Linked DNA regions of Homo sapiens: regions 2, 3 and 4 are each reported to be linked to region 1. The links are microRNA targets in miRTarBase. Many come from high-throughput screens and were not tested one by one. Region 1 holds a microRNA gene; each other region holds the end of a gene's coding sequence.
The links. Region 1 holds the annotated microRNA hsa-miR-3926 (UGGCCAAAAAGCAGGCAGAGA, at 4,639-4,659, shown strand). A microRNA usually pairs through its seed, bases 2 to 8, with sites in the 3' UTR of a target mRNA and lowers its output. Matches are read on the target gene's strand: a 7mer-m8 pairs with bases 2 to 8, a 7mer-A1 pairs with bases 2 to 7 and ends in A, and an 8mer does both.

Region 2: miRTarBase lists URGCP as a target of hsa-miR-3926. The part of its 3' UTR that is shown has no 7-base or 8-base seed match.
Region 3: the mRNA of MRM3 is a reported target of hsa-miR-3926. The part of its 3' UTR that is shown has no 7-base or 8-base seed match.
Region 4: the mRNA of DNAJC10 is a reported target of hsa-miR-3926. Seed matches in the 3' UTR shown: 7mer-A1 at 5,235-5,241.

The regions. Positions count from the first base shown.
Region 1 is chr8:12,723,853-12,731,932 of GRCh38, reverse strand. It overlaps MIR3926-1 (microRNA 3926-1), which reads left to right and starts at 4,629; the gene lies at 4,629-4,701. LONRF1 (LON peptidase N-terminal domain and ring finger 1) reads left to right here. Exons shown (of 12, transcript NM_152271.5): 8 at 76-197; 9 at 2,601-2,759; 10 at 2,870-3,032; 11 at 6,054-6,206. MIR3926-2 (microRNA 3926-2) reads right to left here and starts at 4,696; the gene lies at 4,634-4,696. RefSeq lists an enhancer at 5,082-5,131.
Region 2 is chr7:43,870,107-43,878,186 of GRCh38, reverse strand. URGCP (upregulator of cell proliferation) reads left to right here. Exons shown (of 6, transcript NM_001077663.3): 6 at 1-2,274. The coding sequence ends at 1,520. The region is part of intron 4 of URGCP-MRPS24 (URGCP-MRPS24 readthrough); the gene reads left to right. LOC124901620 (a long non-coding RNA gene) reads right to left here. Exons shown (of 2, transcript XR_007060296.1): 1 at 7,353-8,080; 2 at 6,545-7,239. Among named protein-coding and RNA genes, the nearest start is that of MRPS24, 4.6 kb to the right of the region's middle. RefSeq lists a silencer at 6,096-6,271.
Region 3 is chr17:790,453-798,532 of GRCh38, forward strand. MRM3 (mitochondrial rRNA methyltransferase 3) reads left to right here. Exons shown (of 4, transcript NM_018146.4): 4 at 1,082-2,057. The coding sequence ends at 1,617. Among named protein-coding and RNA genes, the nearest start is that of MRM3, 12 kb to the left of the region's middle. RefSeq lists an enhancer at 417-711.
Region 4 is chr2:182,776,509-182,783,508 of GRCh38, forward strand. It overlaps DNAJC10 (DnaJ heat shock protein family (Hsp40) member C10), which reads left to right. Exons shown (of 24, transcript NM_018981.4): 24 at 613-7,000. The coding sequence ends at 624. Among named protein-coding and RNA genes, the nearest start is that of DNAJC10, 64 kb to the left of the region's middle.

The DNA of each region.
Region 1 (8,080 bases):
TATCAGTTAACTGTGTTGCCTGTTTTATACTGTAGGAAAACCACTGCTGGAATGTAAAATAATATTGTCTTTTAGTATCTAGCAGATAGGAGGTACTGTGTCACACAGCTGTTGGAAGAATTAATAGTGAAGTATCTGCCTGATGAACTGTCTGAGAGAAAAAAAATATATGATGAAGAAACTGCTGAACTCTCACAGTAAGTTTCTTCTCATAAAAAAAATTATGAACTACTACCCTTTAATAGTAAGGAAAAACCTCACCGCAAGCTGGATCCTGTCTTTAGTTCATCTCAGTCTAGTCAAGAAGTATTGGTCTGTTTCCGTGGTCCTCAACAGACAGAATCTTATAAAAGTTCACTTGGTAACATCCGGATGTTTTATAGGGAGTTATTGACTCAGCTCTGTGGGCTGAAGCAGTATTTTGGGCGGGGGAGGAATTTCCTACAGTGCCATCAGGCAGTGGAATGGGAAATAGAGAGGGGGCGCTGGTGACAGTGACATTGGTGGTGATGGCGGCTCTCATGTGTCGTGGTAGGGCAAGAGGAAGGTTGAGGGTCAGTAGCCTAGATTAGCAGGGGATTTTCTGTCACATGGAGGCCCGGAAGGGGGCTTTCCAAACTTTGAGATCTGAGATTGAAATTGGAAGAGGGGTGTTCAGGGCCAAATCCTCAATTAATGAAGATACTGACTGGGAGCACAACTGAGTTGGTGTCGGGAGGGTGAAAATCTCGGAGGCAACTTTGGGATTCGGTAAGGCAGGCCACTCTGCAAAGAACACAGCAGCTGATGGAGCTGGGTAGGCAGGGCCAGGCATTGCTTGTTGTCCCTTTTCTGTTTTTCTTTCCCGTTTTTCTCCCTTTCTTTTCCCTAAATGTCTTTCCCTCTTGTGCAGTCACTTGGGTCTCTTTAAATTTTATTAACGGGTTTTTAATTTCTTTATTTCTTTTACTCTCTTTTAATTGAACACACTAAAAAACAAAATTATAATTTGTATATGCTGTTTTATTTAACAACTTTTTGTTTCCATTGATTTTCAAAATATAAATTGAACATTTTGTATGTCACTTTCTAAGAAAAGCTGTGCTTGTAGACTCCTTTATCAACATGTGCCCATCAGATGTCTTCAGTGAGCCAGGTGCCTTCCACAGAAGAAAGATTTCCACTCTTTATAGAAATAGATATTGATTTGTCTTCTCACAGAATTGATATTTTATTGTGTGGTTTATAAAATGATATGACAATTATGAACCTTTCTGATCAGTGCTGAAGCATCTAGATTTAAGAAAACTGCATTTCTGCTTTTGAAAATTTAAACATGGTGACACAACCAGCCAGCCCACGGAAGAGTGGTAGACTCAAAGGACAGAGGAGGGAGACACACAGAGAGCTGCGCATTGGAGAGAAGAGAAGCGACAGGGTGTCCAGCTGCTTACTAATGGGGCTGTTTCTTAAAACACATATTTTAAACATGTTTCACCTTATGTTTATATAAGTAATTGATGGTCATTTTGAAAAAAACTCAAAAATACAAATGAGCTTTTAAAAAAAGCCATAATCTGCAACTCAAAGGGAATCAACTATTGGCATTTTGGCATACATATTTCCAAACTTGAATGTAGTATGTATAAATAGGCTTTAAACAAAGATGGGATCATGTTATTCATGATCAGTATCTAAAACCTGCTCCTCTCATTAATATAAGCATTTCTTCTAATTCAGTTCATACACATCATCTTTTAATGGAAACATAGTATTCCGTTTTATGGATGTACCATAATTGATCTTACTAGTCTCCTCTTTATGATTCTACAATTTGGTTACTATCCACATTGCTACAGTGAACATTCATATAGCACTTGCCTGCTTATGTCTGAAAATAAGCTGGTTGGTTCCAAGAACATGAACATTTCCTGCCAACAACGTAAGGTTTCTGCTGTCTGTAGCCATGTTCTTTAGCGTGCCTGTGCTGTTTCAGAGTGCCCCCATGCTGCCATTTTTCCCATACCTCAGACAGAACTGGGCATTGCCTTTATCCTTCTCTTTCTTTCTACCAATCTGGCAATGAAAAATGTTATATCATTTTAATTACTTGGAAAAAATGTTATCTCATCAAAATATGTTTTCTTATCCTTGCGTTTGAAAATAATGGCTGAGAATTTTTAAGTATTTGCTCTTTGTTGTGGGAGTTCACTTTTTCTTGTTATCTAAGAGTAACTATGAGTGTTTGGGATAAAAGGTATTTATTGTCATGTTATAAATATTTAAAACAGATTTTAATATAAAATATTACTTATAATAAATTCTCTTGATTCATAAACATACTTAGCTCTGTAAGATAATCTGGTGTCTTAAAATTCAGTTTACTCTTATAAATAAGAGGATCACAGCAGATTTTCAGTATTAATATTTCATCAGTGTGAGCTTAGTGAACGGGGTGCTGATTCTTGTTCTTGCCAAGAATAAAAACCACCTTATTTAGAACTAATTCTTTTTTTGCTTTACATTAGTTCATTACTGTTATAAACCTCACTCATTTTTTGTATGTGTTCGGTAATATTTTTCTTGTATGAATTCTAATAATTAAACTGTTTTTCCCTTAGCTTGACCAAGAATGTTCCAATATTTGTTTGCACTATGGCCTACCCCACTGTGCCTTGCCCTCTCCATGTATTTGAGCCAAGATACAGATTGATGATTCGAAGAAGTATACAGACTGGAACCAAACAGTTTGGCATGTGTGTCAGTGATACACAAAATAGGTATGCTTTTTGTGAACCTAAATATTTGTATTTATGTTAGACCTCTCAATATGGATGAGAACTTGCATGTTTATGTTTCAACTTTGTTACTAATCAAGGTTTTCTTTTAGTTTTGCAGATTATGGTTGTATGTTACAAATTAGAAACGTGCATTTCTTACCGGACGGAAGGTCTGTGGTTGATACAGTTGGAGGAAAGCGGTTTAGGGTTTTAAAAAGAGGAATGAAAGATGGATATTGCACTGCCGACATTGAATATCTGGAAGATGTTAAGGTATTTTAAAATGTGCTTTGCCAGCATACTTTCGTATATCCTGTTCCAGGGATTGGTACAGGCATGCAGGCTATTTTCTAGGTGCATGAACCAGTTCTTATCAGACAGCCTTACCACTGTGATGAGAATGTGCTCCAAGTTACCTTTTTCGTATCTTGCTCTGAAACTGTTGCACATTCTAAGAGAACTTGGAAGACTAGAACATAGATTCTCTTTATTTCTGCAGGCTTAACAACCAGCCCAGTGCCTAGAATGTATGTGTATATGTACACATGTGCATGTGTGTATACACGTGATAGGTACTTAACAATAGTGGTTGAATAAGTTGAACTTCCAACCCATCTAAGTTTTGAAAGGTTTACATTTCTGCCCTGTTTTATTGAATGTATTAGTAGTTGAAGCCGATGGAATTAGTAGATTGAAATTTGATGTAAATGTAAACACATCAAATCTTATAAGAATTGTTTTATATATTAAGATTGTTCTTGTGCCTAAGATAACCTTAATGATAAAATAGAGTTGAATGCTGTGTGAAGACCCTGGGGCAGACATAGAAAGCACTGCCAGTGTACATGTTGGTGATATCTTAACAGGGTAGGGTTTTTGTGATGTCTTTCTAGAATAGGGTTAATGTGGCCCTTTTGATGTTTGCAATACCCAGTTTACCTACTGCAGTTAGTTTAGGAACCGGAAAAGTGACTTATGATGCTACAAATACCAAATTGAAGGCAATTTCTTTTGGAAAGGCATTATAAAAACATAGATCTTATCCCTTCTCTTATTCATTGATCTGTTTAGGCCCTTCATTTCGTCAGCATTTATTGGATATTGGCATTAGGTATTTTCACAAACATTAACTCATAGAATTTTCACAACTCTATGAAATAGTAGATGAGGAAAGTACAATTCAGAGGTGTTAATTAATTTGCCTGAGAGCCTATAGATAATGTAACAAAAATGATTAAAGCAAACTGTCTGACTCAGACTTTGAGCTTTATCACTATGCCATTTGGCTCTCTGTTGATAAACCTGATTAGTCTGACGTTGGCAGTCCTATCTTATTATAAAAATGCTATGGGGGTACTTTGTCTTGTGCAGTTGGCCGAAAGTATTGTGTGAGTTGAAATTTTGAGTTGATTGATAGAATCTGTGCCTTAGGCATACTTGGTTAATGGAATCACTTGCTAAAGGTTCTTCTTTGTAAAGTTAATAACCATATTTCAGTTTTGTGTAAATTTATGTCTTCACTTATTGGATTTGATGACAAAATCACTTGAGTATATGGCTAAATTACATGACTATATGTATTAATACTTACAAACATGTAGGCAATAGAATCACATTCTAAAAGTATTACAGATATGATATTTATAAACGAGTCCTCTTTGGTCCTCGGAATGTCTAGTAATCTTTTCTCATCATGTCTTCATCTATATAATGATTTTCTTGTCCATTCTGGAAAACCTTCTCAAATTTGTTTTATATGGCAAATTTTCCTCTTCTTATAATAATTCTGTTTTCTGTGACTTCTAATGAAATTTTAAGTTCTGTTAAAATTATCACAGTAAAGTTCCTTGACTTTAAAAGCTTGCTTTTAAAATGGAGCTGGCCAAAAAGCAGGCAGAGACTTTAAAAGCGTCTCTGCCTGCTTTTTGGCCAGCTCCGTTTTTCATCACTGACGCTTATAATTGTTATCATTCCTTGTTTACCAGAGCCTGTCATTTGTTTTCTTGAATTTTGTGAGGGTGCAGAGCAGATGCTTTAAAAAAAAAAAAAAAAAAGATTTAACAAGGCATAAGTTTGTTTCTTGCTCCTATCAATGTATGTTAGCAGGGGCCTGAATCATGTATAGTCATTTCAGGACCAAAATTCTTCAATTGTGTGGCTCCTCTACCTTTTTTAAAAGTTTATTTTTATTGTGGTAAAATATACATAGAATTTACCATTTTAACCATCTTTGAGTGCACACAGTGGCATTAAGTACATTCACATTGTTATGCAAAAAACAGATGCTCTTTAAACTTTAGTTTTCATTTCAAATCTTTCAAAAGTAAAAAGTTTGCTTTTTTGTCTCTGGTGTGCTGTAGTCTTATTTTTATATTTCGAAATGTTTTCAGAGTCCCTTTGTTGTTTTTAAATGAGTCATCCTTGAAGTATGAAAGGCTGAGTCAGGCCTGGTATTTTTTCAGATGAGTTTGTGCATATGAGACAGAGCACGACCTGGCAAGTAGCAAGTGGGATGTAAGTGTGCATTAAAGAAATCAGTATAAGATGGATGAGTTAAACTTAGATCTTCCCACCTGTGTTCTCTGAGACTACTCTTCTATCTCAGGCTGGAAGCCTGATGCAATTAATTTTACATTTGCAGTTTGGTGACCCAGTAGTCTAAAGAATACACTGAGGGGTTCCAGAGGTAGCCATAGCCTTGGGCCTTGCCAGCAGAAGCTCATCATTGTGTAATTGACTCTCTGACATACTGGCTTTATATGCTAACTTATTTGTTGTAGCTTTTTGTTTGTTTTTGTGTTTTGACCCAGTTCCCTAGTAAAAGATGTAACTGTGCCTGGACTCCTCCTGTTACTACTTTCTGTCATGTCATCTACACCCTAACTACTTATCTTTTCTTTTTTTGTAGCAACTATCATCCACTTTTTTGTTCCACTGCTTTCAAAAACCATTGATCCATAAAGACAAATGGAATTCCAAATTAGACCTCTGAACCAGAACTCACTCTCAATCTTACTCTTCCCACTTGAGGGCTGTTGTAGGGTTCTGCAATATTGCACTGCTAAGTCAGCAAGGTTAGGCATAGGTCAGGCCTTGTTGTCTTTCTTTAGTCTGGTCAGCCCTATATGAGACAGAAATGTGTATTAAAGCATAGGAATAATACTCTCTGGGACGTCAGCACTGAAACAGGTATTGCCCTGTTCTTCTGATCCCTTTTTCCATTTGTGTCGGTTGGCATATGGCATATGGACGGGGGATTAGACACAGAAGTCTTACTGACTATTGTATTTCTAGGTTGAGAATGAAGATGAGATTAAGAATCTCAGAGAGCTTCATGATTTGGTTTACTCTCAAGCCTGCAGCTGGTTTCAGAATTTAAGAGACAGATTTCGAAGCCAAATTCTTCAGCATTTCGGATCAATGCCCGAGAGGGAGGAAAACCTTCAGGTATGGTGGCTTTTCTGTTCTTCCAAAAGTCACTTTTTTATAAACCCAAATTTGCACACTTCTACATTTGTTTTCTCATTGTCCTTTCTGCACTACTTTTTCTTTGACTGTCCCCTCCCCCGCACCAGCCCCACCTCATCTTTGCAATCATGAGTTCTCTAGAGCAGTGGTCTCCACTACATTCCGTACAGATAGAGGCTGGAAATACGTGTCAGCTGAGATGCCTGTAGGAGAGAGTGCCAGAAAGGGAGCAAGTCCTTAAGAGGATTTTTAGGAGTGGGTAAGGAATTAAAAACGGGATGTTACTATCTAGAAACTGTGACTGTGGGACAACTAACCATGCCTTTGAGCCCATCGCCTGTTGCTGTTATTCTTTGACAGCAGAGAGACTTACCATTTTCTATACATTTGAAACATCTTTTCTCACCTTTCTTTGTATCTCCCAACATTTGACCCAACCACTTCAATTCATTTTTGTCTCTTCATGTTTAATACCTCGCTTCTCATGAAACTATTATTCTTTTAGTCTTGCAGGTACTTAGGGTTTACACTTAAGCTTAGTCTAATGAATGTGTATCTGGCACTTTCTGTGCAAGCAAAACTGCAGGAGGCATAAAAGAAGGGTCTGGCTCCTGGAAAATCTGATCATAGACTTACTAAAGCACTACGTTTTAGGCATCGTAGCATTTTGAATTGAACTAAATGTTTTTGATCAGAAGGTGATAGATTTTACAAAGGAATGGCTGTCAGTAAATATGTGAAGATGGAGAGATAATAGATCTCATTGTAATGCACACTGCCTCATTCCCGTTTTCAAGGGTTGGTCTACATTTGTCTGAATCCCAATTGAATCCTTCACCTGAACTTGAAACACCAACATTAGGCCATCTCCAAATTTAGTATTCATTCTGTTTAGCATATTATCAGTTGCCATCTATTTGTTTTAACTGATTACTTGAATCTGATTAAACATCACAGAAATGGGCTTTGATAAGAACAATATTGAATAAGAAATTTTAAATAACAAAACAGCTTATAGAAAAATTCAGCATAACTTTTCCATCACCTTCACCACCCTTGCCTTTTATTATCCTGTCCTGTATCACTGCTTTCTGTTAGCAGTGTTGTGTGAGTTAGGATTTGGGCAGGAAAGCAAAAGCAACCACCCGTCATTTTCCCAGAATGAAGGGTTTGACGTAGGATGTAGACTTTGTATAGTAGTTGGGAGAGCTGTGGGAGTGAAGGTCAGGGATGTCACCTACAGAAGTCAGGGAATCTGCCACCAGAGATCCTGCATCAGAAACAGCCAACAGCGTGCTTCTGAAGAACTAGTGGGGAAGTGGCTATAATTCTTAGGAATCCCAGCAAGTCTGCACCACTGTCTCAGTCTACAGCAGTGGAGAAAGGGGTTTCCAGGAGCTCTCTGGAAAGTTCCTGCCCACACTTTGCAACAATCTTCAGAGGATAATGGCTTCTCTTCCAGCTTCCACACCCAACAAGAGTGCCTTTCATCGGCCAACTCTAACCTGGAACCCTATGGCAGAGGGGATTTTAGAAGACAGTTTGTAATGTCTGTGGAATGCAGATGAAGAGGTAGCAATGCTTAGTTGACAGCGGACAATACACAAATATAGAAACCGAATCTGATTCTAGAGGGGCCTACTGAGATCAGCACTGATGTCGTAGCTCCTTTTGTCATTCTGAAGCTTTATATTTTAAGTCCGATAAATAGCAATTTAAGGTTCAGTGAAGGTGGCTTACAAGTCCTTTTATGGAAATTTCTAGTTGTTTCAATAGCCAATAGTCAGCCCTCACAGCATTACCAGGACCTTTTCACTGGAGATATGTTTCTTTTTTGAACAACATTGGAAGCT
Region 2 (8,080 bases), not on the chromosome of region 1:
GCTTCGTGAAGAGGATCCGGGCCATCGTTGGGAATGTGCTGCGGGCACCCTGCAGGCGGGTATCTGTGGAGGACATGGCGCACGCAGCCCGCAAACTGGGCCTAAAGGTCGACGAGGACTGTGAGGAGTGTCAGAAAGCGAAAGACCGGATGGAGAGGATTACCAGGAAAATCAAAGACTCGGATGCCTACAGAAGGGACGAGCTGAGGCTGCAGGGGGACCCCTGGAGAAAGGCAGCCCAAGTGGAGAAGGAGTTCTGCCAGCTCCAGTGGGCCGTGGACCCCCCTGAGAAGCACAGGGCTGAGCTGAGGCGGCGGCTGCTAGAACTTCGAATGCAGCAGAACGGCCATGATCCCTCCTCGGGGGTGCAGGAGTTCATCTCGGGGATCAGCAGCCCCTCCTTGAGTGAGAAGCAGTACTTCCTGAGGTGGATGGAGTGGGGCCTGGCACGGGTGGCCCAGCCGCGACTGAGACAGCCTCCGGAGACGCTTCTCACCCTGAGACCAAAGCATGGGGGCACCACAGACGTGGGGGAGCCGCTCTGGCCTGAGCCCCTAGGGGTGGAACACTTCTTGCGGGAGATGGGACAGTTTTATGAGGCTGAGAGCTGTCTTGTGGAGGCAGGGAGGCTGCCGGCAGGCCAGAGGCGTTTTGCCCACTTCCCAGGCTTGGCCTCGGAGCTGCTGCTGACAGGGCTGCCTCTGGAGCTAATCGATGGGAGCACGCTGAGCATGCCCGTCCGCTGGGTCACAGGGCTCCTGAAGGAGCTGCACGTCCGACTGGAGAGACGGTCAAGGCTGGTGGTTCTGTCAACCGTCGGGGTGCCAGGCACGGGCAAGTCCACACTCCTCAACACCATGTTTGGGCTGCGGTTTGCCACAGGGAAGAGCTGCGGTCCTCGAGGGGCCTTCATGCAGCTCATCACAGTGGCTGAGGGCTTCAGCCAGGACCTGGGCTGTGACCACATCCTGGTGATAGACTCCGGGGGCTTGATAGGTGGGGCCTTGACGTCAGCTGGGGACAGATTTGAGCTGGAGGCTTCCTTGGCCACTCTGCTCATGGGACTGAGCAATGTCACCGTGATCAGTCTAGCTGAAACCAAGGACATTCCAGCAGCTATTCTGCATGCATTTCTGAGGTTAGAAAAAACGGGGCACATGCCCAACTACCAGTTTGTATACCAGAACCTTCATGATGTATCTGTTCCCGGCCCTAGGCCCAGAGACAAGAGACAGCTCCTGGATCCACCTGGTGACCTGAGCAGGGCTGCAGCCCAGATGGAGAAACAGGGCGACGGCTTCCGGGCACTGGCAGGCCTGGCCTTCTGCGACCCTGAGAAGCAGCACATCTGGCACATCCCAGGCCTGTGGCACGGAGCACCTCCCATGGCCGCAGTGAGCTTGGCCTACAGTGAAGCCATATTTGAATTGAAGAGATGCCTACTCGAAAACATCAGGAACGGCTTGTCGAACCAAAACAAAAACATCCAGCAGCTCATTGAGCTGGTGAGACGGCTGTGAGTGTGCAGAGAAACCCAGTTCAGGTGTAGGAGGCTGCTGTGGGCAGCCCTGTCTGATGGGGCACCCGTGTGGGGCTGTGCTCTGGTGCCTGAGAATGGCTGGTGCCCAATCGACATGAGAAGACGAGGAAAAGACAGGGTTTGGAGTCTCCTCAACAGTGTTAAAAGAGGAAGTGACCTCACAGACCAGCTCAGAGATGTTACCAAGAATATCACAGCCCCCAGGGTAGGGAGACAAGCAGCAGTTTGTTCTGTCTCAGCTCCTGTCAAGGATCCTGCGGGGTGGGCCCTCTGTATAGCTGCTCTCTGTCACTGGCCCCTGGAGTGGGAGCAGCGTCCTTAGTCACTGCAGGCCCAGGCGGGCAGGTGGTCCCAGGACAGAGGTGGGGAAGTTGTCCTGAGGAAGCAGAAGTAGGCCTTGCTCCCGCCCAACCCAAGGGCCTCCAGTGGACCAGCATTCAAGATGTGAGTGCCCGTGGTGTGCAAGGCACTCCCATGGCACCGTATTTATTGACTGATCTGTGAAGGCTTCCCTGACCCCTGCCCAGGAAGAGTTCACTGGTCGCTCTGTTGTGCCCCACAGCACTTTGTTATACCTCTGCCACACACTTCACGCAGCGCGTTGTAACTCATGTGTTTACATGTCTGTCCCCCCAGACTGTGAGCTCCTTGAGGGCAGGGACTGTACATTCTCCAGCTCTGTGTCCCCAGGGCCTGGCACATTGTAGACGCTTAATAAATGTCTGTTAAATGAATGAGTGCACAAGTGATGGTAATGGGCAGGTTCTGCCTCTCTGTGCCTTAATTCTCCTGTTTCTCAAAGAGGATAGCAGCATCTGTCTGAGGAGGGTGTACGGTACAGGCAGTATCTGGAATGGTAGATAGCACAGAGATGCACCACTTAAAAAAGCCATCCTGTTCCCTCTCTTTAAGGCAGGAGCCATTCTTCAGGCTGTTACTGGGGATTAAAACTAAATACCTTCACAGTAACTCTGAGGTCTTTCCACTGTCACCCCATTTCACAGTTGAGGAAAAGGAAGCCTAGAGCAGGTAATCCCCTGCCCCAGAGCTTACACCTGGATGGGCAGAGCTGGAGCGGATGAAGGGTGGTGCTGTCACGCCCAGCCCTGCATCTCTTCCTCTCATCCTCTCCAGACTCCCATGGCTTCTGGGCTCACCCCTGGGCAGCCATGTCAGTGCCAGCGCCTCCTCTTACATCCTCCCCGACCTCATCCACAGCCCACTTGCCACCATTCGAACCAGAGGCTTGGCCAAGGACTTGGTAGTTCTGCCCTGTCAGTTTTCCCGCTGGAGTCCTTGCCTGTGCTGGCCCTTCCCAGAGGCCAGTGTCACCTCACTGGGCCTCAGAACCCCACCTGAGCCCTTTCACCAGCTCTAGGAAGCTCTGCTTGATCCTCTGGGCCTTGCTTAGACCTTGGAGCCTCTTTCTCTTTGTGTTTCTTGACTTCAGAGAAACCAGGCCCTTCCCCAAGAGCTCCTACCATGTTTCTTGTCCTCCTTTCACTAGACACAGCAAGGGAGCCTTTAGCTCTCGGGAGCTCACCAGCCTTCTAGACTGGAATCCTTTCTTGAACAAAAGGCTTCCTGGTCCCTCTTCTGGAGATGCCTGGCAGGCTGCCTGCTGTGGATTTCTGGATTCCCCAGATGCTCCACCTGCTGCTCCCGGGACATCCAAACTGTTGCCTCCTGCGTTCCAGGAGCCTGGTTCTCTGCAAACCTGGTCTCTTAGTAATAAGTTTAGGAAAACCTTTCCCTTTTTCATTTTCCTGCTCTGTTGCCTGGGCTGGAATGCAGTGGCGCGATCTCACTGCAACCTCCACCTCCTGGGTTCCAGTGATTCTCAGCCTCCCAAGTAGCTGGGACTACAGGCGCCCACCATCACAAAAATACAAATAATTTTTGTATTTTTAGTACAGACAGGGTTTCACCACGTTGGCCAGGCTGGTCTCACACTTCTGGCCTCAAGTGATCCACCTGCCTCAGCCTCCCAAAGTGCTGGGATTACAGGAGTGAGCCACCGTACCCAGCCTCCTCCCACCCTTTTTGAAGGGTTGATGTTTCAAGTCTGTGAACTGTGGATGGGCCTTGCCTTTAGCCCTCCAGTCAGTGCTGCTCTTAGGATTCCAATGAACACAACACCCAGGACTTGCCTTTCATATCTGGAGCTCAAAATGCTCACCTTCAGGTCTGAGAAGCCCCAGAATTTGCCATGGGGCTACTGGACGGTCATGTCCTTGGAGCCAAGCTTAGTAGAGAGAGAGCCACCCAGAAAGGTGGACAGGGCGGCAGGCTGCTCACCAGAGCATGGCCGTGTGCTCACAAGGGGTCCTGTTTGATGAAAGTGTCAAACCAAGCAAGTACCATCTTGGAGGAAATGGGCCTGAAGAGTGCTTGGGACAAGGAACAAGCGTGTCTTCGCCTCTCTTGTGAGATGAGGTGTAGCTTGCTTCAGCACATTGGATGTCCGGCCTGGTTTTGAACCTCAGCCTTACTTCCTACTAATTATATGACCCTTTAGCAAAGTTACTTGGCTTCTCCAAGCCTTAGTTCCCCCTACTAGCGCCTGTGTAGGAATGGAAGGTGCTTATACAGTGCCTGCCCTGTGGTGGAAAAGCCAGTCTGTGCATGAGGTAAGTGAGGCACCCATCTCTGTGTCTACACCATTCTGCACACCCATGAGGTTTGTGGAGAGGAAACTGCCTTCTGCATCAGCCTCAAACATTTTAACATGTCAGATCAGGATTCATCTTTTAATCAATCAATGGTACCTTAAGATAATTTGCAGCCAGTTTTCCTTCTTAATGGTATGTAAAACAGCATCTTCTCATCGATACTATCTTAATTTACTGAAACAGCACCTAGCAGAACTGGTGGTGGTCTGCAGTTTATACAATATAAACCTGATCTGGTAACTACCCCAACTCCTCAGGTGTGGTGTATTAGCCCAGTAAAAGGGAAAATCCTCTTTCTGAGTCACTAATAAAATAATTTGGCCATAAACCTATCCTGATTTCTTCTAAGACTCCAACAAAATTTCACCAGAGTGCAGCTTTATGAGCACTGATGAGTCAGGGCTGTACAAGAGCCAAGATGACCTTGGTCCTGGTCTCCTGTCATTTCGTCAACCACACCCTCGCCCCGCCACATACACACTTTGGAGGCCATGGTTTCTTCCATGCTGCTGTCTGCCTGGGGGCCCCTTCTGCCTGTCTCTGGCCCTGGTTGACTGGCGGGCACATCTCTCAGAACAGCCTCTGGTGCCAGTCGCACCTCCATTTGTGCCCACCCAAGGGTTCAGAGGCCTTTCTGTGCCCTTCTTGGTCCTTAGCACATTTTCATTGTCTCCTCATCTGAGCCCATTATATCTAGATCTAGCAGTTTCTGGGAGCCAGGGAGTGGCAGTCTCAGGGGCTGGAGCTCATGAGCCCATCCCTCGGTCTTCTCTTTCTTGAGTCCGCACCCCCTCTATCCTAAGCACCAGTTTGGCTTCTTCAGGTTCTGACTTTTAGCCCAGGGTTCTGGTGTGGCACTGGGCATTTCTAATTGCCCATAGCTCTGATAACAGGGGAGTGGATTCCTTGGGACCGCAAAGCTGATGTCAGTAATTATAGCTGGGGACCTCACCCACCAAACCCAGCCCTTGTGCCTCACCAGAAGGAGAACAGAGGTGGGGGGATGGAGCAGGAGCTCACAGGGAAAACGGCTGAGCTGTCTTGGCAATCTGGTTTGACACGCCTCTCTGCTTTACTCATAGGGTTTCAGTTGTTTGACCTATTTCTCAGAATAGAGCTGAGAGCCTCTGGGATTTTTCCTAGTGAACGAGTTATTAGGAAAAAAAGAATCACAAGGAATAATGTAAAAACCATAGGTTTACAAAGTGTAAAGTGTCAGCAGTTCTGAGTTAGGATAAGTCAGCTGTAAAGAGAACCACCATGAGTGGAGTGATATCGGCTCACCCTGCAGCCAACAGGAAGGGAGATGTCACCCCACCGCCCCCAGGCTGGATTCTGAAACTCTTCAGGCTCTGGAAGTACAAGGGGGCTGACAGCTCCCTTTTACACAGTGTCTCTCCATGGCCCAGCCAGTGCTGTATCCCCTGAGCACTCTGGGTGAGCCCATGGTGGCTGTGCTGCACCCAACTGGACAGATCATCTCAAAGAAGTCCTGACCTCCCAGCAGACCCCTCCTCCCTTCTTCTGCCCTTGTGACCAAGAGTGGTGGGCGTGGACTATGGCTATGTTCCTTAGAGAGCTGCCATAATCTTCCAGGGGCATCCAACAGCACTCTCCCCGAAAGGGGGCTCTGCAAATACACATTTTGGGAGTCTCCCAAATAAACTGAGTGAGTTCAGGACACTGGTTCTCAGCCCCGACTGCAAATTGAAATCATCTAAGGGGCATTTTAAAAGTGTGAGTGCCTGCCCTCTCCCCACAGAGGTGGTGTGGAACCCAGGGGGCTCTGTCATGCAATTGCAAATCACTGCTTTGAGAGCATAGGAGCAACTTCTGGTTCTTGGTTATTATGTACAGAACAAAGGCTCATGTCAGAGAAAAAGCAGTTTTACATCCCTGTCTCTGCATTAGGCTCCAGGAAGGGTGCAGATGGGTCTTTCACATGGGGTCATATGCTCCTGGCCTTTCCATGTCCAGGCAGTCCTTGAGGGCCACTTGGGAGCTGTCTGCAGCAAGCCACAGAAACCCAGGCCATTCCCTGATCCTAACATGGTCTGAACCCTCACCCCCAGGAAGTGATACTGAAAGAGCACATGCTTTGGAGCAAAAAGGCCTGCTACCATTTACTACTTCTGTAACCTCAGGTGAGTCTGTGAGCCTCCATCTTCTGCTCTGTGAAGCCTGGAAATACTGCCTCCTTTATGGAATTAATAGGAGAAGGAAAGTGCATCAAAACAACAACAAATGGAAGTTACAGAAAAATAAAACATCCCCAGTCAGATTTTTCTGCTGATTATTTAAAACAATATAACATTCATACTGATGTATAAAAGTCATTTTAAGTAATTTTAATCATGTAAAGACCGACACGTCCCCTTTCCCCCAATCACAGTATAAACAAAGCTAATAAAGGATAGATAACAAGATATTTGAACCCCAGAAATGTCTGCCACTGAAATGGCCATTGTGATGCTTGGAAAGATCTAGATCGGTTTGGAATTCCAGAGAGAGATCTCAGGCATAAGGGAGAATGGCTTGAATAGAGGAAAGCATAAATTTGATCATTTGATTGCCTACTGCTTTATGGGCTAAACTTGATTCCCAACCACAGCCTTCGTGGTGTGGCCCCTGCCCACCTTGGGCCCCAATAGGTGTTGTGCCATTGCCACCTCTGCCTCTGATCAGCCCAAGGATCTTGTTTCCCTTTCTCCTTCCCCTTTCCTCTGATTAGGGTGGTGTTGCTATGAGTTCTCACAGAACCCTCAATAGCTGGCTCATCTCCCTAACGGGATATGTGGCTATCAGGGACTCGTTAAAAACAACAACAAAACCCACAACTGCTCTCTCCCTCTGCCAGGCACATCATACTGTACTTCTCACAACCACCATTATTGTCCCCAGTTTACAGATGAGAGAAACCGAGGCTCAGAAGGTTCAGTCACTTGTCCAAATTACACAGCCAGGAAGCATTGGGTCCACGATTTGGACTCAGGCAATTCAGATGCCACATCCCATGTTCCTCACCACCTTGGAGCAAATTAATGAAACTTAACAATTATAAAATTATTGAACATTATGAAAACTTTAAAAAATAATTGTCAGTTGAAAAGGATTTCTTAGGAAATGTTGAAAGTTCTTACATTTGCAAAGTATGCATTGGAGGGCACCTCATCCCTGTTCTGTCCCTTTATTCAATATGCATAACAGTTGGGGGCCGCAGTTCCTAAAAAGTAAGAATAAAACATTTCTGGTGAAGTGGACATGGAAGACCTTGTCCTTTTATTACGGGTTTTTTGAGAACCCACCTTCATGTAATCAGAGGAATCTTGGTCATGGGAAATGGGCTGGACTGAAGTCAAGAGACTTGTGTCTTGGTCCCTCTTTCCCTCTTCTCAGTGTGGTCATGGGCAACTCATTTCCACCGTTCTTCCATTTCCCCTTCCCATGGATCATAATCCAGTCCTCCCCCTGACAGGAAACCGCAGCAGTATGCAAGTACTGTACCATTAAGGGGAATGATGTAGACCCAGAACGGCCAAAACATTGGCAATTTCACATCACTCAACCAAACACAACCCATCATTGATTAAATATTCTCTTGATCCTAATAGCTCTATAAGGTAGTACTATTATTAAGGCCCATTTTATAGATAATAGAACTGAGTCTTAACTGTACAAAGATTGTTATACATGGGTCTGACTCCAGAGCCCGTGTTTTTTCCATGACCGTGGTGACTTCTAAAATAAAATATCCCGCGTTGCTATTTTTCCGTTTGACATTAATAATTACTGGATACCAATAATAGTGGCGACGCACTGGTTTCAGCATTACAGGCCCTGCGATATTCTCACGAATCTCCTTGCCCTC
Region 3 (8,080 bases), not on the chromosome of region 1:
CTCCTCCGTGTTGGCCTGCCCACCTCCCACCTCCTGTGCCACTACAGCCCCAGCGCTGATTGACCGGCTCACTGCCTGTGCCACCACACCCCCACCCGCTGATTGGCTGGCTCACCTCCTGTGCCGCCACAGCGCCACCGCTGATTGGCCGGCTCACCCCCTGTGCCGCCACAGCACCACCAGTGATTGGCAGGCTCACCTGTGCCACCACACCCCCACCCGCTGATTGGCCAGCTCACCTCCTGTGCCACCACACCCCCCCACCCGCTGATTGGCCACCTCAACTGTGCCACCACACCCCCACCGGCTGATTGGCTGGCTCACCTCCTGTGCCGCCACAGCGCCACCGCTGATTGGCCGGCTCACCCCCTGTGCCGCCACAGCACCACCAGTGATTGGCAGGCTCACCTGTGCCACCACACCCCCACCCGCTGATTGGCCAGCTCACCTCCTGTGCCACCACACCCCCCCCCCACCCGCTGATTGGCCACCTCAACTGTGCCACCACACCCCCACCGGCTGATTGGCTGGCTCACCTCCTGTGCCGCCACAGCGCCACCGCTGATTGGCCGGCTCACCATGCTTGCAGTCCTTAGGCTGCGCCACTCTCCCGCTTCCTCTCCTAGCTCTGTCCTCTGCCTGGGCCTTTATCTCAGTGTGGTGGTCTTTTAGATGGTTTTCCTCATCGCCCTGCTTTGTCCGTGGGTTTTCTATGACTGTGTGGGTGCTTCTTTTACATCAGTTACTGATACTGTAGCCATCTGTTTAATACCACCCCACTACACTGTGCGTTCCTTGGGGTTGGGGACTTTCATTATCTTTGCATCTTCTGCGCAGTGTCTGGCACGTGTGAATGGGAGATGTTGAAGGGATGCATAAAATATCTTCAGCACTAGCAGGAGTGACTCCTATAGTCGCTGTGCTGGATGCTGTCAGAGAGAGGCAGAAGGTCCCATCCCTCAAGAAAGCTATCATAGAAGAACTGGTTTATCTCCTGATCCAAAATTGATCAGACTTACTCCACAGTCCCCTGGTCTGGGAAGATTTGTAACATCTTGATTGTTTCCTTTTTATTTTCCAGGCTGTGTGGATGCCTGGGAGCCCAAAGTGCTCCGGGCGGGTATGGGCGCACATTTCCGGATGCCCATTATCAATAATCTGGAATGGGAAACCGTGCCCAATTACCTGCCCCCTGACACTCGGGTCTATGTGGCTGACAACTGTGGCCTTTATGCCCAGGCTGAGATGTCTAATAAAGCTAGTGACCATGGCTGGGTGTGTGATCAACGAGTGATGAAGTTTCACAAGTATGAGGAAGAGGAAGATGTAGAAACCGGAGCCAGTCAAGATTGGCTGCCTCATGTTGAGGTTCAGAGTTACGACTCGGACTGGACAGAGGCGCCGGCAGCTGTGGTGATTGGCGGGGAGACCTACGGCGTGAGCCTGGAGTCCCTGCAGCTGGCCGAGAGCACTGGTGGCAAGAGGCTGCTGATCCCCGTTGTGCCTGGTGTGGACAGCCTCAACTCGGCCATGGCGGCAAGCATCCTGCTTTTCGAAGGGAAAAGACAGCTGCGGGGGAGGGCGGAGGACTTGAGCAGGGACAGGAGTTACCACTGAGGACGCAGAAGTGACTTCTGCTTGAGGACGTCTGCAGCTCCTCCTACACCAGCACACTGGTGGGAGGCTGGCGGAGTCAGTGACTATGGCCCCCACGTTCAGGAGGAAGGTGTGATGCCGTCATACAGTTACAGGAAAAATAAGAACTTCCTCAGAAAGAACAGGTCCGAATTCTTCCTGTCGCGTCACTGATTTTGAGGTTCTTTTTTCTCTTGGTGACAATAGGTGACCCACGTGGCTCTGTGTGTTTTTAAAAATTGTCCACCAAGAAGCACTTTGTGCCCAGAAAGTTCCTGAAGCATCATCCTGGCAGGGAGGCGCCTGCTCCACCAGCTGGTGGGTGTTTGTAATCGCCAAGCACCAGCTATAGGTCACAGCCACATCACTCACAGCTGATCACTGGTTGGTGGAAAATAAACTATGAGCAGCAGATTACGTTAGTAAGTTGTTTTGTGTCGTTGGTGTGTCACAGTACCTGTCACGTTTGGCCTGGTAACGAGGACGTGGCTAAGGGAACACCAGGAAGCTGAGGGCTACGCTCATGGCATCCAGCAGCTCTGCTCTGGGCTCAGATGGTCTGTCTTTGAGATTGTTCAGGGCTTCACTGAGCCACTGTTTATGTATCCATAGAAACGGCTTAATTCAACAGGCCATGTCAGACCTTCTTGGCACCTCTGCAGATACCTTTTTGAGGACTTTGCAGAGACGGAAGTCTATGCGGAAAACTGAATTTCAAAATCGGCAGCCTCACCCTGCATGTGTCAGGAAAGTGTCACTGTTTCCTGGTTCCCTGTGTTAGTCCTACTTACGTCTCATCCCCCAATGTTTAGAGGCCAAGGTTCTGAGAATGAACGCCCACAATACAGCGGCAGGACCCTTCTGTTCTCTCAGCCCCTCCAGGGCCCAGGGCAAGCTGGATCTTTACCTACTAGCGGCCAAACCAGGATGTAGCCAGGGTGTCAGGGCAAGTGCTGATGGTCATCAATGTATCTATAAGGAACTGTGGGGATGGGGTGGGTGGGTGGAATATGGGACTCTTAAGCACTGCTGGCCAGGTGCGGTGGCTCACGCCTGTAATCCCAGCACCTCGGGAGGCCGGGCGCAGTGGCTCACGCCTGTAATCCCAGCACCTCGGGAGGCCGGGCGCAGTGGCTCACGCCTGTAATCCCAGCACTTTGGGAGGCCAAGGCGGCGGATCACAAGGTCAGGAGATCGAGACCGTCCTGGCTAACACGGTGAAATCCTGTCTTCACTAAAAAAATACACAAAATTAGCCAGGCGTGGTGGCAGGTGCTACTCGGGAGGCTGAGGCAGGAGAATGGCGTGAACCCGGGAGGCGGAGCTTGCAGTGAGCCGAGATCGCGCCACTGCACGCCAGCCTGGGCGACAGAGCGAGACTCCGTCTCAAAAAAAAAAAAAAAAGCACTGCTTTTGCAGCCACACAGAGTTGGAGTTGAAGACAACACAGGAAGCGTTTCCCCACACCCCTCTGCCCAGCGGCTCCCGTAATGGTTTGGACACTGCTCACTCCAGGGAGGTCAAGTGTGTTGCTGGTGTGCCCAGGAGAAACCTTCTTTCTCTTCTACTCCCCCAACTTCCTAGTCAAACTCCCTCTTCCTAGTAAAACCAAATGACCAAGCATGATTCACGTGCCAAGGGGCAGGTTGGGATTGCTCTCCCCTGGGGGAGGGGTGTTTGCAGGGACAGTGTCCTCCCAGGCTGACATCTGAATATTTGAACATCTGCTCTGGAGCCCCACTGTGGTCTGGGCCTGCCCAGAGCTCCACATGAATGGGCAATGCAAGTGTCCCCCCAACACTGCTCCCAAAGGCTGGTGCAGAGAGGACAGGCGGAAAGGCGGCCTGGAGAATGCAAATCCATCCCACTCCAGTCTCCCCAGACACCTCAGGACAGTGCTCAAGCAGCAGGAGTCACGAAAAGGAAGCTCACATCTTTCCAGCCTAAAACCAATCTCGTGGGATTTGTTCCCCGGGTTATACTCCCACTGACTCGTTACAAAATAACAGTGAAAGAATAAACCATGTATTACCTTGTCCTTGTTTAGAAAAAGCAATGTAAACACTGGAAAGTAATTTTTTTTTTTTTTTTTGAGACGGAATCTCACTCTGTCGCCCAGGCTGGAGTGCAGTGGCGCGATCTCGGCTCACTGCAAGCTCTGCCTCCCGGGTTCCCGCCATTCTCCTGCCTCAGCCTCCCGAGTAGCACCTGCCACCAAGCCTGGCTAATTTTGTGTGTTTTTTTAGTGAAGAAAGGATTTCACCGTGTTAGCCAGGACGGTCTCGATCTCCTGACCTTGTGATCCGCCGCCTTGGCCTCCCAAAGTGCTGGGATTACAGGCGTGAGCCACTGCGCCCGGCTAATTTTTTGTATTTTTAGTAGAGACGGGGTTTCACCATGTTAGCCAGGATGGTCTTGATCTCCTGACCTCGTGATCCACCCGCCTCGGCCTCCCAAAGTGCTGGGATTACAGGCGTGAGCCACAGTGCCCGGCCAACACTGACAAGTAATTCTAAGCCCATTTTATCCTGGGTGTGAGAGGGAAAAGAAATTTACATCCCTTTGCTTTAGAGTCCGTGGCTTATATGCCACGGTGCCTTCAGTTCACTTTATATATTCATGGGTATAATTTAGTAGGGACGAGGGAGGGTGCAGGAGGGAGGCAAATTGTCCTTTCTTCAGTGAATACAGGGGAACAGATGGTTGTTATTTGCTGAGTGATTCTGGAAAATCACTACCTTGAATTCTCAGTTTTGAGTCTGACATTTGTTCTGTCACCATTTCCCCAGTAAACAGGAATAAAAAACGAGCCACATTTGACAAGGAAAACACTGCTTGGCCGAGAGACAAACATTGTCAGGATGTTGGCCACGCTCCCGCGCCTTTGTGTGGTGGCGTAGCTGTCACAGTGGCGTCTGCCAGGAGGTGGCAGGCGACACCTCCAAAACCACCCCAGTGCTGAAGGGCGGGGCTGCGATTTTTTCCTGGATTTAAATCGTTGAAAAGGGAGGAAAAGAGGATGGAGTGAAGTCTCCCTCCACCAGAGAGCATTTTGCAAGCTGTCTGTGCTCCGGGGTGTTAAAGCCGGAGACCCATCCAGATTGTCCCAGACCACCTCAGAAGAAAGAACCCGGAGTACAGGAAGACATGGGAACAAAAACGGAGGCGAAAGAGGACGAACGGGAAATAGCAGGAAAGACCGTCACAACTTTTCCCTGTGACTGCAGCCTCTGAGAAAAGCAACTCTGGGCAAAGCATAGGTGTCCAGATGTGCCTGGAGCTCACGCTGGGTGCCCACCGGCTGGCCCTTCGGTTCCTGCTTCGGGGCAGAGAGCGTTGAAATCACTCTCCCCTCGCCCCAGCCGCTGGCTCCTGGCTGGGAGCCTGGTCATTAAGGTCCAGAGGAGAAACAGACCTCTGGGGACCTGCCGTTCACCTGGGACCTTCCGCTGCTTGCCCCGGGGTTGACAGCAACCCCAGATGTCCGCACCAGCCACGCTGGGCCACACTTAGCCCCACTTTTGCCATTCTACCACGCACAGCCCTCACACACACTCCCCATCCAAGGTTCCAGGGCTCTGGGCTGAAAATCACCAGCTGTACTGCAGGGCCTGGGGCTGCCCTCTTGACCAAGCTACCTCTCCCTCAGGAGCAGAGCTGACAGGCTCACCTGTTTTTAAGAAAACATGTTGCCACCTTAAAAATTCCATGATTGTGTTTCCTCTGTTTTCTTTTTTTTTTTTTAGATGGGGTTTTGCCACGTTGCCTAGGCTAGTCTTGAACTCCCGGCCTCAAGCTATCCTCCTGCTTCAGCCTCGAAAGTGCTGGGATGCCAGGCGTGAGCCCCTGCGCCCGCCATGTTTCCTGTTTTCATCAGTGCAGGGAGTGCACACATGTAATAAGCTAGGAGCCAAGTTAGTGGATGAGCTGGTTTATTGCTCAGGATGACTGAAGTCTCAACTACGGAACCATGTTACATTCGAGCAGCTGAGACAGCAGCTGAAGCCAGGTCCTCCCGAAGCTTCAGGAAGCCTGCTTGATGCTCCACGGCTGAGAGTGACAGAGAATCCAGAATAGCTTATGGATGGGTCAGTTCTCGTCTCACCACACTCCCAATATCCAGCTTCCTGGACTGTTGTGTAGGGAAGAGCCACTTTTTTCAGTTGAAGTCTGAGTTCTTATGGGCCATGACCAAGGCTGCTGCTTCCTCAAAAGGCACGAAGGGGGCCGCGTGCGGTGGCTCACGCCTGTAATCCCAGCACTTTGGGAGGCCAAGGCGGGCGGATCACGAGGTCAGGAGTTTGAGATCAGCCTGGCAAACATGGCGACACCCTGTCTCTACTAAAAATACAAACATTAGCCCGGCGTGGTGGCGTGTGCCTGTAGTCCCAGCTACTTGGGAGGCTGAGACAGGAGACTTGCTTGAATGTGGGAGGCGGAGGTTGCAGTGAGTCAGATCGTGCCACTGCACTCCAGCCTGGGTGACAAAAGTGAAACTCTTGTCTTTAAAAAAAAAAAAAAGAAATGCAGGAAGGGAACAGGGAACAAGGCTGGGGAGGGAGGAGCCGACGGCTGCAGCAAGCTCCGGCCTCAGCCTCCCTTCCCTGCTCCTCTGAGATGCCGAGGGCGGGGCGTACTCACTGCAAGCCTGCCAAGTAGGACCTCCATGTCCTCTGACATTCGAGAGATGGATTTTTTGGCCCTGAGATCACGTCTCCTACTGTGTCGTCATTCTAGCACCTGTGGGTGACTTCCTCATGTGAGTGAGGCATAAGCACCCGGAATCCGGACTGGAGGCCGTCTCTGCCTCTGGATTGCACACTGGCCTACAGACCTGGGGACAGAGTCTTTCACGAGTTGTGTATCGTTTAACAGAAACCCAACAGTTCCACCCAAACCTCCTGACACATTCTCGGGCTTGGGAAGTGTCCCAAAGCACCAAGGGGGTGAGACACACGCCTTGAAAAATGGCAGTAGGCATACTTACCTGTCTTCATGCGCTCACATACGAGGTGTACCTAGAACGCCCTCATGTTATATTCCCAGCACTAATGAAGCTACTGGTCAACAGCTATTTGTTCCCAAAGAATTTTCCCTTGCGCAGCCGCAGCCTGGAGGAAGCAGGGCGTGTGCCCTCGTCTGCTGGCGGCAGCAGTGAGGGGTGTAGCCAAGTGCCCACTTCTCTCATTCAGCTGCTTCGGGGCAAACTGGAAAGATCCTTTGAGCTCACAGCCCCCTGCTCAGTGCTACTCCTGAACCTGCGGGCCTGTGTGCACAGCCACCCACAGCGCGCACAACACATGGGCCTGCCCAGGGCAACGGCACCGTCAACAGCGTGTGCCCTCGCTCAGGGCCCTGCTGGTACTACGCTTCCCAGTGTGCAGGGTTCCCAGACGTGTGTCCTCTCATACATTGCATTTCCTCCCTAAGCTGCACGGGGCAACACCGTGTTAGGTCCCGCGCATCTGCTCCTGGGCCACATCCGGCTCCGTCTGTATTGTTCCTGAATTCAGTTTGCTGTCCTAGAACAAGGCAGCAGGAGGGGAGAACAGCTTTTCAGTGTCTTTAATTAGGCAACAGGAAAAAACAAAGTCTGGCTGAAAATTACTATTTGAAGCTTGGCCGATGCCAACACAGCACTCGCTCCCTGCGTTCTGGTAAGTGATGGCCATTGATTTCAAGGACGTACCAAGGGGCGAAAAGCAAGAGCAGGAAGTCACCTCGCTCTGGAAAAGAAGCTGGTTTTCATCTGCTGTATGTGCTGGTCCCAAACATACCCTTTTCTCTTTTTTTAGTATTTTTTTTCCCAATTAGGAATTCAATGTGGAAAACATACCCTTTTTCTTCAACAGGCTTTTAATGTTGGGAAGACAGGTTAAAAAAAACAACAACAACAGGCTGGCTGTGCCGGCGCACGCCTGGAATCCCAGCACTGTGGGAGGCCAAGGCAGGCAGATCACCTGAGGTCAGGAGTTCGAGACCAGCCTGGCCAACATGGCGAAACCCCGTCTCTACTAAAAATACAAAAATTAGTCAGGCGCGGTGGTGTCGCTTGTAATCTCAGCTACTTGGGAGACTGAGGCAGGAGAATGGCTTGAACCTGTGAGCTGGGATCGTGCCACTGCACTCTAGCCGGGGCGACAGAGCGAGACTCTGTCTCAAAAAAAAAAAAAAAAAAAAACCCTCATCGCTGTTGTGAGGATGAATGGATGGGATCTGGAAGTCACTGTGGTAAACACAAATCTGGGAACCACAGAGTGGCGTTTTCACAGCCGCCCCCAGCCTCCACCTGCAGGGCCTGGTTTTCCTGGCTGCCGGAGGAAGCCCTTGAATATGCCACAGCTGGTGCTGAACCTGCTTCCAATTAGCAACAAGAATCTGAAGGTGGAGCTGCTTGGCGGGGATTATCATGCCACCCACTTCGCCTGCATCTGTGGCCTTTACG
Region 4 (7,000 bases), not on the chromosome of region 1:
CCTATGAGGCGAAAGGAGGACAAAATAGCTCAGCCTCTGGAAAGGGCTAGAGAAGACTGGCTTTATAGCACCATATTAGACAATAGGTTCTACTGTAATCCAGTTCAAACTGCAGACCCCAATAGACAAAGCCTTACAACCTACCTCAAGAATATTTTTTACGAATCTGAAAGGTAGGAAAGAGTTATGAGTCTGTATTTTCTTGGTTCCACTGAACAAACATGTTTTTCTAGTGTTTCGCTATATTAGTTTTCTCAAGATATTTTATTTTGAAAGGTGTAACTTTTATCTCATTAAATATTTGAAATTTAAAAATTGTCATAATCTAAAATATCATACCTGAAATTAAGTTAAAGAGAATACCCAATATGCTTGAAATTATGTAAACCTATATAGTTAGTAATATCTGCTGTGAGCAGGTAAGAACTAGGATATTCTTTTCTTTTTTATTGTTATATTTTGGCAAAGTATATTTCATGTCATGATCCATTAAATAAGAATATTGAGTATTTCTGAAAAAGTAAAATGTTGGTTTGTGGTATTTCACCTTATTTTTAACATTACCAACTCATACTTTCTCCTTTCTCTATCGCCTTTACATTATTATTATAGGATGAACTTTGATAATGTTGAAGATGAAGAAAAAGTTTAAAAGAAATTCTGACAGATGACATCAGAAGACACCTATTTAGAATGTTACATTTATGATGGGAATGAATGAACATTATCTTAGACTTGCAGTTGTACTGCCAGAATTATCTACAGCACTGGTGTAAAAGAAGGGTCTGCAAACTTTTTCTGTAAAGGGCCGGTTTATAAATATTTTAGACTTTGCAGGCTATAATATATGGTTCACACATGAGAACAAGAATAGAGTCATCATGTATTCTTTGTTATTTGCTTTTAACAACCTTTAAAAAATATTAAAACGATTCTTAGCTCAGAGCCATACAAAAGTAGGCTGGATTCAGTCCATGGACCATAGATTGCTGTCCCCCTCGACGGACTTATAATGTTTCAGGTGGCTGGCTTGAACATGAGTCTGCTGTGCTATCTACATAAATGTCTAAGTTGTATAAAGTCCACTTTCCCTTCACGTTTTTTGGCTGACCTGAAAAGAGGTAACTTAGTTTTTGGTCACTTGTTCTCCTAAAAATGCTATCCCTAACCATATATTTATATTTCGTTTTAAAAACACCCATGATGTGGCACAGTAAACAAACCCTGTTATGCTGTATTATTATGAGGAGATTCTTCATTGTTTTCTTTCCTTCTCAAAGGTTGAAAAAATGCTTTTAATTTTTCACAGCCGAGAAACAGTGCAGCAGTATATGTGCACACAGTAAGTACACAAATTTGAGCAACAGTAAGTGCACAAATTCTGTAGTTTGCCGTATCATCCAGGAAAACCTGAGGGAAAAAAATTATAGCAATTAACTGGGCATTGTAGAGTATCCTAAATATGTTATCAAGTATTTAGAGTTCTATATTTTAAAGATATATGTGTTCATGTATTTTCTGAAATTGCTTTCATAGAAATTTTCCCACTGATAGTTGATTTTTGAGGCATCTAATATTTACATATTTGCCTTCTGAACTTTGTTTTGACCTGTATCCTTTATTTACATTGGGTTTTTCTTTCGTAGTTTTGGTTTTTCACTCCTGTCCAGTCTATTTATTATTCAAATAGGAAAAATTACTTTACAGGTTGTTTTACTGTAGCTTATAATGATACTGTAGTTATTCCAGTTACTAGTTTACTGTCAGAGGGCTGCCTTTTTCAGATAAATATTGACATAATAACTGAAGTTATTTTTATAAGAAAATCAAGTATATAAATCTAGGAAAGGGATCTTCTAGTTTCTGTGTTGTTTAGACTCAAAGAATCACAAATTTGTCAGTAACATGTAGTTGTTTAGTTATAATTCAGAGTGTACAGAATGGTAAAAATTCCAATCAGTCAAAAGAGGTCAATGAATTAAAAGGCTTGCAACTTTTTCAAAAACCTGTTAGAATATGCTTTATTGTGTTTTGAGGAGTTTTCCTTTTTTTCTTTTCAATATCACTTTATCCTGCTCACCAGTATTTCCTCATAAGGGTTATTATAGCCATAATTAATGTTAAAATAGACTTTGTTCTTCATATTCTCCCATCTTTTTCGCTACTATATACTCTGTCTGGATTCTGCTGTATGCCTGTTGGCATATATGGAACAGTCACCACTTGTCACACTTAACACCAGCTTTTTGAATTATGATCAGTAATGGCAAGAGCCTTTCATTCTCGAATGTTTAAAGCCTAGGAGTTCTACAAAATTGGCTTCTTTCTACAAGAATCCCAAAATGGAATGCCTAAAGAAGTCTTACTTGGGTAAATACTTACTAAAATATACTGGTTATGTGCATATCACCACACTGGACACTGAGGAGTGTTCAAAAGGAATCTAAGACATGGTCCCCATCTTCCAACTGTCTGTAATTCACTGTTTTGTCATTGAGCTCATAAGGTACTTACATTACTACCTATAAATGTTTCCTGTACTTGTTAGTTGTTGAGAAACATTTTAGGCAGTAAATAAAATAGTAAATATTATGTGTCCTATAATTTGACCTAAGCTGTGTGCCTTTGGAATCAGCTCTAAGCCAGGGCCCCCTGGGAGTCATGTTAAGAAACACGTATCATAAAGTGACATACATCAAGGTTATCTTATATAGTCATAACAGTATTATTGGGTCTTTCAAAAACAGCTGGCAGATTGAGCTTTTAATGGCTATATTGATACAGTAGATAGAGCACCTCTAAGGAGTACCAGGTATAATGTGCCATTTCTCTCAGCAACACCATTTTTGTGTGCAGCTGACCCTCTAACATGGTATCAATTCTAGCTGACCAAAGCACATTCTATCAGGCAGCCAGGCTTGGAAATTAGGTCCATTTAAAGTATGTGGCTTACAGTCAGGTATGGTGGTGTGCGCCTATTGTCCCATCTACTTGAGAGGCTGAGGCAGGAGGGATTGCTTGGGCTCAGGATTTTGAATCCAGCCTGGGCAACATAGCAAGACCCCATCTCTAATAAATAAATTATGTTTTGGGCATTAATGATGTTTGTCTATTCTGATTTCTCAAATTTTATTTAGGTCTTTCATAGCTTTTTTATTTAAAGGTATATGATTAAGATAAAGGAAAAGTAAAATGAAATGTTTATGTAATTTTATATTCTCAAAATTTTCTTTAAATTTGCTCTGTTTTCTGACAGTGCTCAAAGTGGGAATTTTTTTAGAAGTACGGTTATCAAAAAAACACATTTCCTATGGGACACACATTTCAAAGATGTTTAGTACGATAAAATTTTTAGTAAAAGGGTAGCACTTTTAAGTCATTTGAATAGAATATTTGTGTAATATTTAGTCTAGTGTTAGTCCTTAAATCTGCCAACAAAACCAGATAGATGTCTTAAAGTAGGCACATTTATTCCATTGTGACTGTTAAGAAATAATAAAAGATTAAATTAACAAAATGCATTTTAAATTTTTATGATACCTATAGAAAATTGATAATGAAGATGAAAAGTAAATAACCTTTCTGATAATATTCTACTTTACACATATACTGAAAACTTACTTACATATACCCAAATTCTTCTAGTGAAGAAGTTTGTAATATGGTTTGAGTATTTGTCCCCTCCAAATCTCATGTTGAAATATGATCCCCAGTGTTGGATATGGGGCCTGGTGGGAGGTGTTTGGGTGATGGGGGCTGATCCCTCATAAATGGCTTTGTGCCTTCCCCAGTGGTAATGAGTTCCTGCTGTGTTTATTCCTGCAAGAGCTGGTTGTTAAAAGGAACTTGGCACCACCACCTCCTCTCTTTCTCGCTCCTTCTCTGTGTGACATGCCTTCTCCCCCCGTGCCTTCTGCCATGAGTAAAAGCTCCCTGAGACCTCACCAGAAGCTGAGCAGATGCTGGTGCCATGTTTTTACAGCCTGCAGAACTGCAAGTCAAATAAACGTTTTCTTTATAAGGTAACCAGTCCCAGGTATTCCTTCATTGCAATGCAAAACAGACTAATACAGTTTCTTTTCAGTAAGAATTACAAAATTTAGGCCAATGACCAAGCTGAGTATAAATTACTAATCATACACAAAAATGTGTTTCACTGGCTTGAGTCATTTTTCTGTTTAACACTGAATTTACACTTAGATTCTTGTACTGTCACTGAGTCCCCTTGTAAACAGCTAGGTATATTTTGTGAATGGAAACTAGCCAAAAATACAGCCAAAGTCTCAACGCCAAACTGGTCTACATCAGTATGGACTCCAGAAATGCATCTTTCAACCACTTGATTGCATTAAGTAGTCATTTGAGTGCATCACCTAGTGGCCTTTGGTCCTGAAAGTTAGCAATCATCCCCAAAAAGGTCTGTGTTAATAACTGATAGACAATCTTCATTAAGCAACTGCTGTTTTTTTTTTTTAATACTTCAAGTTCTGCAATACATGTGCAGAACATGCAGGTTTGTTACATAGGTATACATGTGCCATGGTGGTTTGCTGCACCCATCAACCTGTCATCTACATTAGCTATTTCTTCTAATGTTGTCCTTCCCCTTGCCCCCTACCCCGCCGACAGGCCCCATTGTTGATGTTCCCCTCCCTGTGTCCATATGTTCTCATTGTTCAACTCCCACTTACGAGTGACAACATGTGGTGTTTGGTTTTCTGTTCCTGTTAGTTTGCTGAGAATAATGGTTTCCGGCTTCATCCCTGTCCCTGCAAAGGACATGAACGCATCCTTTTTTATGGCTGCATAGTATTCCATGGTGTGTTTGTGCCCGTTTCTTTATCCAGTCTAACATTGATGGGCATTTTGGTTGGTTCCAAGTGTTTCCTATTGTGAATAGTGCTCCAATAAACATACGTGTGCATGTGTCTTTATAGTAAAATTATTTATAATCCTTTAGGTATATACCCAGTAACGGGATTGCTGGGTCAAATGGTATTTCTATTTCTAGATCCTTGAGGAATCGCCACACTGTCTTCCACAATGGTTGAACAAATTTACACTCCCACTAACAGTGTAAAAGCATTCCTATTTCTCCACATCCTCTCCAGCATCTGTTGTTTCCTCACTTTTTAATGATCGCCATTCTAACTGATGTGACATGGTATCTCATTGTGTTTTTGATTTGCATTTCTCTAATGACCACTGATGATGAGCTTTTTTTCATATCTTTGTTGGCCACCTAAATGTCTTCTTTTGAGAAGTGTCTGTTCATATCCTTTGCCCACTTTTAATGGGATTTTTTTCTTGTAAATTTAAGTTCCTTGTAGATTCTGGATATTAGCCCTTTGTCAGATGGATAGATTGCAAAAAGTTTCTCCCATTCTGTAGGTTGCCTGTTCACTCTGATCATAGTTTCTTTTGCCATGCAGAAGCTCTTTAATTAGATCCCATTTATCTGTTTTGGCTTTTATTGCCATTGCTTTTGGTGTTCTAGTCATGAAGTCTTTGCCCATGCCTATGTCCTGAATGGTGTTGCCTAGGTTTTCTTCTAGGTTTTTTATGGTTTCAGACCTTACATTTAAGTCTTTAATCTATCAACTTAATTTTTATATAAGGTGTAAGGAAGGGGTCCCAGTTTCAGTTTTCTACATGTGGCTAGCCTGTTTTCCCAACATCATTTATTAAATAGGGAATCCTTTCCCCATTGCTTGTTTTTGTCAGGTTTGTCAAAGATCAGATGGTTGTAGAAGTGTGGCGTTATTTCTGAGGGCTGTGTTCTGTTCCATTGGTCTATAGCTCTGTTTTGGTACCAGTACCATGCTGTTTTGGTTACTGAGCCTTGTAGTATAGTTCGTTCTTTTTGCTTAGGATTGCCTTGGCTATATGGGCTCTTTTTTTTTTGGTTCCATATGAAATTTAAAGTAGTTTTTTCCAATTCTGTGAAGAAAGTCAATGGTAGCTTGATGGGAATAGCATTGAATCTATAAATTACTTTGGGCAGTATGACTATTTCACAATATTAATTCTTCCTATCCATGAGCATGGAATGCTTTTTCCATTTGTTTCTGTCCTCTCTCATTTCCTTGAGCAGTGGTTTGTAGTTCTTGAAGAGGTCCTTCACGTCCCTTGTAAGTTGTATTCCTAGGTATTTAATTCTCTTTGTAGCAATTGTGAATGGGAGTTCACTCACGATTTGGCTCTCTGTTTGTCAATTATTGGTGTATAGGAATGCTTGTGATTTTTGCACATTAATTTTGTATCCTGAGACTTTGCTGAAGTTGCTTATCAGCTTAAGGAGTTTTTGGGCTGAGATGATGGGGTTTTCTAAATATACAATTATGTCATCTGCAAACAGAGATAATTTGACTTCCTCTCTTCCTGTTTGAATACGCTTTCTTTCTCTTGCCTGATTGTCCTGGCCAGAACTTCCAGTACATAGGAGTGGTGAGAGAGGGCATCCTTGTCTTGTGCCGGTTTTCAAAGGGAATGCTTGCAGCTTTTGCCCATTCAGTATGATATTGGCTGTGGTTTTGTCATAAATAGCTCTTATTATTTTGAGATATGTTCCATCATATCTAGTTTTTTGAGTGTTTTTAGCATGAAAGGGTGTTAATTTTATCGAAGGCCTTTTCTGCATCTATTGAGATAATCATGTTTTTGTCATAACTGCTATTTCAAATGTTTGGAGGAAGTAAAATGTCTTTAAAAGAATAAGTGTTGATTTTTGGAAAATATGAAATTGGAAACTTAGAAAACTTGAATTCTAAGTGGCTATTTATATTACCAAGCGGTAAAACATTAGCTAACTAAAACATGGTTCTGAAGCCAGTTAACTAGCAAAAAGTCCCACCTATGCATTGAAATATCTTTCTCAAGTCATTAGATAAAGTATATGGCGTTAAGGCAAAAAATACATATACACACACAAAAAAAATATTTCAGCAGCCACTGCCAACTGAAAGTAATAAAATGAAACAATTTGTTGGCTTTAATGTAT